Linked DNA regions of Homo sapiens. The protein of the gene in region 2 purifies or fractionates together with the protein of the main gene of each other region. This does not show direct contact. Each region holds a gene or a part of one and is shown on either strand. Other genes may lie near its edges. The genes, in order: UFD1, ADORA1 and BRI3BP.

What was found.
Region 1: the proteins of ADORA1 (region 2) and UFD1 purify together in Homo sapiens (affinity purification with mass spectrometry; one large-scale study listed by BioGRID and IntAct). This does not show direct contact.
Region 3: the proteins of ADORA1 (region 2) and BRI3BP purify together in Homo sapiens (affinity purification with mass spectrometry; one large-scale study listed by BioGRID and IntAct). This does not show direct contact.

The regions. Positions count from the first base shown.
Region 1 is NC_000022.11:19,452,205-19,455,247, reverse strand, and holds part of UFD1 (ubiquitin recognition factor in ER-associated degradation protein 1), read left to right. Parts: intron 1-417; coding exon 418-499; intron 500-3,043. UniProt on the Homo sapiens protein: Essential component of the ubiquitin-dependent proteolytic pathway which degrades ubiquitin fusion proteins.
Region 2 is NC_000001.11:203,162,136-203,165,787, reverse strand, and holds part of ADORA1 (adenosine receptor A1), read right to left. Parts: intron 733-3,652; exon of another isoform or gene 665-732; coding exon of another isoform or gene 528-664; coding exon 1-527. UniProt on the Homo sapiens protein: Receptor for adenosine. The activity of this receptor is mediated by G proteins which inhibit adenylyl cyclase.
Region 3 is NC_000012.12:125,010,612-125,014,263, forward strand, and holds part of BRI3BP (BRI3-binding protein precursor), read left to right. Parts: intron 1-1,922; coding exon 1,923-2,025; intron 2,026-3,652. UniProt on the Homo sapiens protein: Involved in tumorigenesis and may function by stabilizing p53/TP53.

The DNA.
Region 1 (3,043 bases), on a different chromosome or scaffold from region 2:
TGGGTCCGGGGACCCACAGCAGACCCTTCCTCTGGTGGCCATGATGGCAGGGGCAGGGCTGAGGTGTGTCAGTTGTCTGTTGTGTGTGTGAAATCAGAATACTGGAGTGAGAGTCTAGCCACCTCAGGGGGTTCTGTGAAGCTCAGGACAGTGACAGTGAGGGCTTCCCAATCCTTCAGATGACCCCTCTCCATAGACAGGTACAGAGCCTAAAGCCCCTGGCCCTATACCCAATATTGATACCAAACCAAGAAGTCAGTTACTTTCTGCTTCCCTCCTGGGAGGATGCCAGGAAGCACCAAAGGGCCCAGGTGGGGTGCAGCAGCATCTTTTCTGCGTTCCTCTTGACTGTCAAAAATGAATTTTAGTCCTTTTTTCCTGGAAATAACATTTCTCTGTCTCTGTCTCTTCTTACAGAGGAATTCCCAATTATGAATTTAAACTTGGTAAGATAACTTTCATCAGAAATTCACGTCCCCTTGTCAAAAAGGTTGAAGAGGTGAGTGTATTTCCTTGTATTTCCTTGGTTGGTAATGAGGAGATTTATTTGCTAGTGATGACTGAAGTTCTTGGCATTCTGAGTAGGGGTGTGCATTAGTCTGTTTCCAAGCTGCTGGTAAAGATGTACCCGAGACTGGGCAATTTACAAAAGAAAGAGGTTTAATGGACTTACAGTTCACATGGCTGGGGAGGCCTCACAATCATGGCAGGGGGCAAGTCACATCTTACATGGATGGTAGCAGGCAGAGAAAAAGCTGGTGCAGGGAAACACCTACTTATAAAACCATCAGATCTCATGAGACTTATTCACTATCATGATAACAGCACGGAAAAGACCCGCCCTCATGACTCAGTTACCTCCCACCGACTCAGTTACCTCCCACCTGGTCCCTCCCACAACACGTGGTAATTCAAGATGAGATTTGGGTGGGGACGCAGCCAAACCACATGAGGGTGTCTGTCATGTTTTCCCTTTCCTAGGGTCCCTCTGCTCCCTGGTGTCCTGTTTTTTTCTGTAGAGCTGGTGTAGGGTGTATGAAACAGAAGACTTGCAGCATGGGGGTCAGGAGCTCTGTCTTGCTCTAGAGCCGACTCCAGGCTCTGTTATCACAGAACTGTGTGCCCTGGGTGGGCTTCGTCTTCCAACAGAGACCTTGAACTTCAAATATAGGCAGCACCTTCTAGCTGAGCAGGGTGGTGGCGGGACAGAGGAAGGCAAGGGCTGAGCATCCTGTAGACATGGGCACTTTGTGGGAATATGGCCAGGCCTGGCAGCAACTGGAACGCAGTCACCTCTTTGTGATGAGGATTTCTACAACACCAGCGCTTCAGACCCATCGCTCTCCTGGTTCCTTTTCTCAAAGGATTGGACCCTTGAGGATCCAGGATCAGGGCAGAGGGCAGATGTACTGAGCCACCCATTCAGGACCAGCTGCTACATGGGAGCCATCCCAATTACTGAACTCTTTTCTCTAGCACTTGGGGTGGTTGGGGACAGAGACCACTGTGAAGTTTGCACACCTGGTCCTACTCACAACCACTTCTGGGCTCAATGTTCAAGTTGAAACAGCATTGGGCATTGGGACCTTTCAGGCTCAGAGGAGCAAACATAGTGGCCAGTCAGACCTCACCCTCCAGCTCCTCCTTCAGGCACCATCCAGGCTTCACCAGCTACAGGCTGCCTTTCTCACTAAAAGCCAGTGCCTGACTCCGACCTAAGACCTTAGCATGGGACGTCCCCCAGGCTGACTGTGACCTGACTGTTGCAAATTTACAGAAGGCAGGGGAGGCCAGTGGGCACAGCAGGCCTGTTTGACCATAAATATGTATTTAAGAAGTATATGTTTAAAGATGGGATTGAAGACATATTTAGCTCTATTCCATCCTGCAGCCCCACTAAGGCTGTGGCTAAAGGTCATGAGGTAAGAAAGACAGTGGAAGAGGAGGCAACTACAAGGCTTTGGAAGCCCCAGGTACCTTAGTAGACCATAGAAAGCCTAGAAGCAGTTCTGTGTAGATTGTGGAATTCTCAAAAGGCACCTCTAGAAATGAGGGACTAAAGACAGAATTCTGTTACTAAGCAGTTAGAGCTGCATTACCCTCCCTCCCCCATCCCAGAAGGCTGGAGGCTCGACTCCAGTAGGTCTCTAGACTACTATCTCTGAAGTGAAGGCCACAGTCAGAAAGCTTTCCATTCCAGCATCTAAATAATAGAGGATTTGTGGGAAGAACAGCCACAGAAACCAAAGGAGCAGAAATCATCAGGGAAATAGTTTCCCCAAAGATGGGCACAATTTTGCAGATTTGAAGGGCTCACTGAGTTCCAGCAAAATGAATGAAAATAGCCCCACTTTGAGGCAAAGAAAGATCCTAAAGCTTCTAGAGAGAGAACAGAGGTATCACCATGCATTAAGGACATCATCAGCCAAGCGCCATGGCTCACACCTGTAATCCCAACACTTTGGGAGGCTGATGCGGGAAGATCATCTGAGCCCAGGAGTTTGAGACCAGCCTGGGCAATATAGGGAGACCCTGTCTCTACAGAAAATTTTAAAAATTAGCCAAGCATGGTGGCACGCACCTATAGTCCCAGCTACTTTAATGCTGAGTTGGGAGCATCACTTGAGCCTGGGAGGTGGAGGCTGCTGTGAGCTGAGATCACACCACTGCACTCCAGCCTGGGTAACAGTAAGTCCCTGTCTCCCAAAAAAAGGGACATCATCTTAGCAGGACACAGAGGAAACTAGAAGATAGTGGAGCAATATACTCAAAATTCTGAGGGGAAATTTTTTCCAACCTAAAATTCTGTACCAACTCTTATGAGCTGGATTGTGTCCCTCCAGTGTTTCTGTGTTGAAGCCCTAACCCCCAGTAACTCAGATAGGGCCATTTAAAGAAGCAATTAAGTTAAAATAAGACCATTAGAGTTGGCCATAATTCAATCTGGTGTCCTTTTAAGAAGAGGAAATTTGGACATAGGAAGGGCCATGTGAGGACACAGCAAGAAGGCAGCCATCTGCAAGCCAAGGAAAAGGGTGTCAGA
Region 2 (3,652 bases):
AGGCATAGACAATGGGGTTCATGGCCGAGTTGCCGTGCGTGAGGAAGATGGCAATGTAGGTAAGGATGCTGGGCTTGTGGCAGGACGGGCAGAAGAGGGTGATGCAGTTGAGGATGTGCAAAGGCAGCCAGCTGAGGGCAAAGAGGAAGAGGATGAGGGCCAGCGACTTGGCGATCTTCAGCTCCTTCCCATAGTACTTCTGCGGGTCGCCGGAGGAGGCCGACACCTTCTTGTTGAGCTGCTTGCGGATTAGGTAGAAGACCTCCAGGTAGATGAGGACCATGAGGAGAAGCGGGGGCAGCACCCACACAAAGAAGTTGAAGTAGACCATGTACTCCATGCTGATGACCTTCTCGAACTCGCACTTGATCACGGGCTCCCCCATGCTGCCGTTGGCTGCCCAGGCCCGCTCCACCGCACTCAGATTGTTCCAGCCAAACATAGGGGTCAGTCCCACCACGAAGGAGAGGATCCAGCAGCCGGCTATGGCCACCGCCGCCCTCCGGGGGGTCACCACCATCTTGTACCTGGGGGAGAGGAGGGCAGAGTGTGAGGATCTGCCTCCCAGCTGCCTCGAAAGGCCCCTCTGAGGCACGCCTGGCCTCCAGGGGCCTCTAAGAGGAGCACCCTCCTCTTCCAGGGCCCGGTGAGTGGGGAGGTGCATGTCTTTTGCTCGAGGGCTGAGTCTTCAGGATCTAAGATTTAGTGCTTGCCATGCATTGGCTTATTCTCCTACAGAGAGAGGAAATCCTGATTAATGACAAAAATAATAATAGAAAATCACAGAGGAGCTCCTTTATGAATTTCAAGGAAATGACCACAGTAAAAATTGCTCCCATGTGCTCAGCATGCCCCCACTGGTTATCTCATCATTGCTTCATGACAGCCTTTGTCGCGTAGGAAGTCACCGGCAGAATGAGGACTGCCCAATTGGCAGATGAGGAAACTGAGGTTCAAAGTAATCACAGGATCTGCCCAAGGCCACATGGAAGGTGGCAGTGCTGTTCCGTGCTTCCTAAAACACGTCTACACTGACCGAAACACCCAAGTGATTAACAAACCATCCCTTCTCTTGGGCCAGCAGACACAACTGTCATTTTAAAAAATCTTTCACACAACCCCCCTTCCCTTGGCCTTGTCCCATACTCCCCTGCCATGCCCCATCTCCCACCTCCATATGAACCTCCTGTTTCCCCTTCCAATCACTGTGCAGCACTTACCTCCTAAGGGCTTGATCTCAAGAACCAGCTCTGCACTCCCAAGCTAACTGGGAATGATGCTCAGGAAAGAAAACTGATATTCACTGAGCATCTACTACATGCTAGATACTTTCAGTCATTCATTCATGCATTTACGCATGCATACGTGGATGCATTCATTCAGCAAGCATTTGTCGAGTGCTTTCTGTGCTAGGCATTGCTCCCTGTGCTGAGAATAAGATAAAAGATCCCTGCTTCTACATATCTCACATTTTGGGTGAAGAGACAGATAACACAAAAGCAAGAAAATAAACAAGACAACTATAGATCATGATATGTCCTTTAAAGGAAATAGGTTGAGTCAAGGGCCAGAGCTTTCTAACTTTTTTCAGGTCATGACCCACAAAGAAGATAGAAACATCTGGATGACGAGGCTGCTCGTGAGCCACAAGGGTTGGGCGTTTTCATATCTCAGGGGTTCCTACTTCCCTTTAAACCAATCTAGCCAGCAGCCATCATGGCTTCTGCCCACATACTGGCCTTGGAGACAGTGCCAAGGGCTGGGTCTCACCCAGCTCTGTGCTGAGAAGCCAGCTGAGCAGCAGCAGCTTGCCCAGTTGTTATTTTCCAATGCGGCTTCTGAAATGGATGGAGTGCCCTCCTGAGCATGTAAATAGCTCCTGAGACCCAGGAGTGTGAAGGGAGAGGCTGCCGACTGTTTCCTTCCGCCCCAGGGATGCAGAATCTGCGGCTTTCTCCTGCATGGTGATGATGCTTAAAGTCTGTCTCGCCCCGGACAACGCTTCTCCTAGATCCTTCACCATCCATCAAAGCCCACCTGCTCTGTGAAGGCTATAGGGGTAGGAAGGGAGACAATTTGCCCAGTGGGAGGAACCAGATGCCCCTCTCCACCCCATCTAGAAGATAAGGACTAGAAGAGACCTTTGGAATCTCATTTTCTATCCCTTCATTGTCCCAGTGAAGAAATTGAGGACTAGATGACTCCAACACCTTTGGAGCAGTTCCCCTCTCCTACTCTGTGATCATAGGATTCTTGTGCCCCAAACCACCACCACCAAGGGGCCTTGAGAGGTGACCAGTGCACTTGTGCCTCTGAAGTTTTCTTAGATACAATCCTCACTCTCTTGCTGAAATTGAAGCCCATTCCCTCCTCTGTACCCTCAGCAGAATGGCCAGGCCTGGTGCAGACACTGGGAGTGAGAAGACCCAAACTCGGGCTGCCAGTCTGCAACTTGCTAGATCAATGTCTCCTCTGTAAAAGAGACCTACTTCAGAGGGGGAGGATCAAATGAGATACTACGTGTGCAAGTACTCTGTAAACATCCGACCAGTATTCCTTTGCCTGAGCTCTTCTTACCCCTCCAAGCTCCCAGACAAATGGCCACCTGGAAAACTCCAGTATCTCTGGATGCTCAGCAAACACAGCCTAAGGGCTATTTAAACATCTTGCTCACATCTTGTTCCTGACCATCTCAATGTGTTCCCCACAGATATGGTGTCCTCTCAGATATGGTGGAAAAAGTTCTGGGCATGAGTCTACGGGCAAAGACCAAAGGAACATAGGTCATTCTGAAGGCTGAGGGATGCTGTCTCAGCAGCCACACAGCGGAGAGTGGGGCCAGATCCCCAGGTGAACCTCAGCAGGGAAAGCGAGCTGCCACTGCAGAGAGGACGGGGCCAGGTGTCCTGCCTACCCCCACCACCCATCACATCTGCCATTTATACCACATTTATCATTTACAAATCCCTTTCTCAGTCCTGTCTCAGGTAATCCTCATAACTGCTGCTGTGGTGAGCACAGCAGATAAGGGAATCCCCATTTCATAAATTAGAAGCTCCACTGGCCTGGGTCTCCTGACTCCAAGCCCAGCTCTTCTTCAGGGTGCCAGGCTGACTGTGGGTTGTTGAGATGCAGATGATTGGCAGGTTGAAAATATCCCTTGCCTAAGAGATTTAAAAGGGGAACTTCAAGACTCTGCCCAAGGAAGGCACCACCCAGAGTCAGTGGGGTGGGGTAGGTGACCTCTGGTGCTGCCGTCCAGCCTATGGATTGGGGGATCTAGCCTGGGACTGACATCAGGGCAGTGATGACCTATGGAGAGAGGAGAGGTAGACAGTGATAGCCCTAGACAGGAGAGAGGGAGGAGACTTCTAGCTACAGAAGTGGGTCCCTCCCCTCTTCTCTCCTCACCCCTCACCCTTCTGACCACCCAGAGCCCCCGGGGTTAAAGCTTTCCTGGGGCTCCTCCAGGACCCAGTCCCAGCAGACCCTGCAGCTTAGGGTATCAGCTCTCATCTGTTTTTCTTGCTATTTTCTCCCTGGTGGGAAAGGGCTGGACCCAAGACCTTGGCTGAGGTGGGGCAGGCTCTCACAGGAAGGGCTGCCTCCCAAGGCCAGGAGAGAAGCTCACCTATCCTTACACGTGGGAAAG
Region 3 (3,652 bases), on a different chromosome or scaffold from region 2:
ACTGAAAATACAAAATTAGCTGGGCATGGTGGCGCATGCCTGTAGTCGCAGCTACTCGAGAGGCTGAGGCAGGAGAATCACTTGAACCTGGGAGGAGGAGGTTGCAGTGAGCCGAGATCGTGCCACTTGCACTCCAGCCTGGCGACAAAGCGAGACTCCAAATAAAATAAAATTAAATTAAAACATAAAATACTGTAGCTGCCCGGGTGTGGTGGCTCACGCCTATAATCCCAGCACTTTGGGAGGCCGGGGTGGGCAGATCACCTGAGGTCAGGAGTTCAAGACCAGCCTGGCCAACATGGTGAAACCCCGTCTCTACTAAAAATATGAAAATTACCTGAGTGTGATGGTGCGTGCCTGTAGTACCAGCTACTCGGGAGGCTGAGGTGGGAGGATTGCTTGAACTTGGGAGGTGGAGGCTGCAGTGAGCCGAGATCATACCACTGCACTCCAGCCGGAGTGACAGAGCGAGACCCTGTCTTAAAAAAAAAAAAAAAAAAAAAAAGCTGTAGCCAATTCACGGAGGCATTTACCCTTCACACGTGAGCCGAGTGGCCCATGTAGGTGGGTTCTATTATGGCAGCACTCTGCGTGATGCAGCCCTGCAGAGTCCCAGCCCCCATAGATACCTTGGTCAGCCCTTACAAGGGAAGGGGCGTGTTTTACTCAGTTTTGCTCAGTTGTTGGGCTGTCATCAATTAGTATCAAGTTCAAGTTAATCCCCTGGGCCAGTAGACCACTTGGTGGCATTCATCATGGGCTCGCTGTTTTTTCCCCTGTAATAGCCAAGGCTGGAAACCATGTAGGTATCCATGAGTATGGGCCTGGCTCCAGGTGTACCATGTTTAAAAAGGATGAGGCAGCTCTGTGTGGTCTGAGTGTGAGTATCTCCAAGACAGAGTGTTGCATGAGCAAAGCAGCTCAGCTGTACACCTGTGCTGCCATTGCAGAAAGAATATGTCTGTGCCATTATTCACCTGGCACGTCTAAGGAAGGGTTCCTCCGGAGGGGGATTCCAGTTGCCAGGAAATGAGAGGGAAGGCTTAGTCTCCACTGAATACCTGTTGGTAGGCTTGAGTTTTATGCTACATGTATACAATATCACTAATTTTTTAAAAAAAAAAGTTAAAATGAGGCTGTACCTTGTATTCATGTTTCTTTAGCCCTGTGTCACCTGGAGGGCAAATAAAGACCTCAGAGGCTCAGGGTCCTTAGAGTTGGATAGAGCATGGGGCTGTATCATTACCAGCTTCCTTGGAGCAGAAACTTCCACTCTTTAAAAATGAGAAACCCGCAGGGTGCGGTGCAGTGTTTCACGCCTATAATCCCAGGACTTTGGGAGGGCCAGGCAGGAGGACTGCTTGAGGCTTAGAGTTTGAGACCAGCCTGGACAACATAGCAAGAGCCCATCTCTACAAAATAATAATAAAGCCTGGTGTGGTGGCTGCACCTGTAGCCCTAGCTACTTGGGAAGCTAAGGCAGGATTGCTTGAGCCCGGGAGTTTGAGGGTGCAGTGAGCTATCATTGCACCACTGCACTCCAGCCTGGTCAACAGTGAGACCCTGTCTCTTTAGAGAAATCAGGCAGAGGAAGGCAGAGATCCTGACCCAAGAGGAAGCATGAAAGACAGCAGGAGCAATGGCAAGCGGCGTAACGCGGCCCTGCAGAGAGTCCCAGCCTCCATAGGTGCCTTGTTCAGCCCTTGCAAGGAAGGGGTCGTTTTCACCAGTTTTTCTCAGTTAGGCTGTGATCAGTACCCAGTTCAAGTCAATCCCCTGGGCCAGTAGTCCACATGTGTGGTATTCATCATGGGCTCACTATTTTTCCCTTCCCAGGTATAAACTCCCAAGCTCCCCAGTTCACTGCTTGACTGATGGAGGAAAACAGTGATTGGGTGATGACCGTTTTCTTGTTTCTGCAGTTCTTGGCCAGGCTGACTGAGAGATTTGTGCTGGGAGTGGATATGTTCGTGGAGACACTGTGGAAAGTCTGGACCGAGCTCTTGGATGTTCTTGGACTTGACGGTAGGTGTAGGGGTGGCATTCACGTAAGGTGTCATTCTATTTTGGTGGTTCTCATAGTGTGGAACTGGTACTCACAGTGAGTAATACATGAGAAGGTTGCGGAGGGCTGGTCAGTGAGGATATGAGTGAACATTTTTTATTTTAATAGTCTCATATATAGGCCAGGCATGGTGGCTCATGCCTGTAATCCCAGCACTTTGGGAGACCAAGGTGGGAGGGTTGCTTGAACCCAAGAATTCAAGACCAGCCTGGGCAACATGGTGAGATCCCATCTCTATAAAAAAAAAGTACAAAAAAATTGCTGGGTGCAGTGATGTGCACCTGTAGTCCCCATCCACTTGGGAGGCTGAGGCAGGAGGATTGCCTGAGATGAGGAATTCGAGGCTGCAGTGAGCTATGATCATGCCACTGTACTCCAGACTGGACGACAGAGCAAGACTCCTCTCAAATAATCATAAAAATAAAAAACAAATGGCCCATCAAAGCTGAGATTTCCCAGATGCCACTTAGGATAAGGTGCGACTGGGTAGTGGGAGTGCCAATTTGTGTGCAAAACACATGGACCAGAGGTATAGTGCTCTGGCTTACTGGCATCCGTGCAAGAAATGACTAGTTATTTAGGCAGAAGGGGATTTCATGAGACAGAGACACTCACAGAACCATCAGAAAGGCTGAGGAAGAGATGCATGGCCTCAGACACTGCCGAACTGGCTGTCCAGGGTTGCAGCTGTTGAAACCGTTGAGTTCGAAGTCACACAACTGTAGTATAATTTGAGGACCAGGAGGCCACTGCTGCCGCCACAACAACTAGACTTTGCATGTGGGTGCAGGGACCCTTGCCATTTCTGGAACCATGCATATCAGCTGCAACACTTCACTTAATTTCCAAAGTCGTGTGTGTATGGGGGAACTGCCAGGTGGAACTTACTTTCTGTCCAGTCCCTAGCTGCGAGGGAGGCAGGCTAATGCGGTTCTTAGCTCTCCAGCTTCTGCCATCCAGGAAGGCAGCCTGGGAGCAGGTGTCACCTGATGCTGCACCAGCCCATCCACCATACCCACCGCACAGGGCAAGAATTGCCAGGGGAGCTGGCCCCTGGTTTTGTGGGCTAGGGGAGGAGGGTAGTCCAGTTTGATAGTGCAGTGCTAGTCACACGTTTATAATCAGGAAGAGAACATTGGTGAGGCACGGCCCCTCCCTTTCTACATGTGGGAGGGGGCACTGATACTGGTCTTGGCGGATGGCAAGGCAGCAACGGTCATGGTAACTGAGCTGGGCACTCCTAGTCCAGTCCTGCAGCCTGTGCTACCCCCAGCCTTACACTCCCCTTCCCAGGTGGCTCTGCCCCACCTCCACCTGCATTCCATCGGTGGGTGACAGGAGCTAACCCGGGCAGAGTGCCCAGGGTGTACAGCTTTTATACCCAGAGGAGACCTTGTCCCTTACCGCCTTAAGAGCTTCAGAGGCATCCCATGCTCTCAGGATGAAGTAACCTTCCCGTTTTCTCTACCGTGCCCCATGGTGTGCCAGGTAAACAGGGATCTCCTAGCTGCCCCCGCTCCACTGCTCTCCTTCTGTCCACAAGGTGGAGGCCGCTCTTCCCCTGGGCCTTTCCAGAGGAAATTCCCC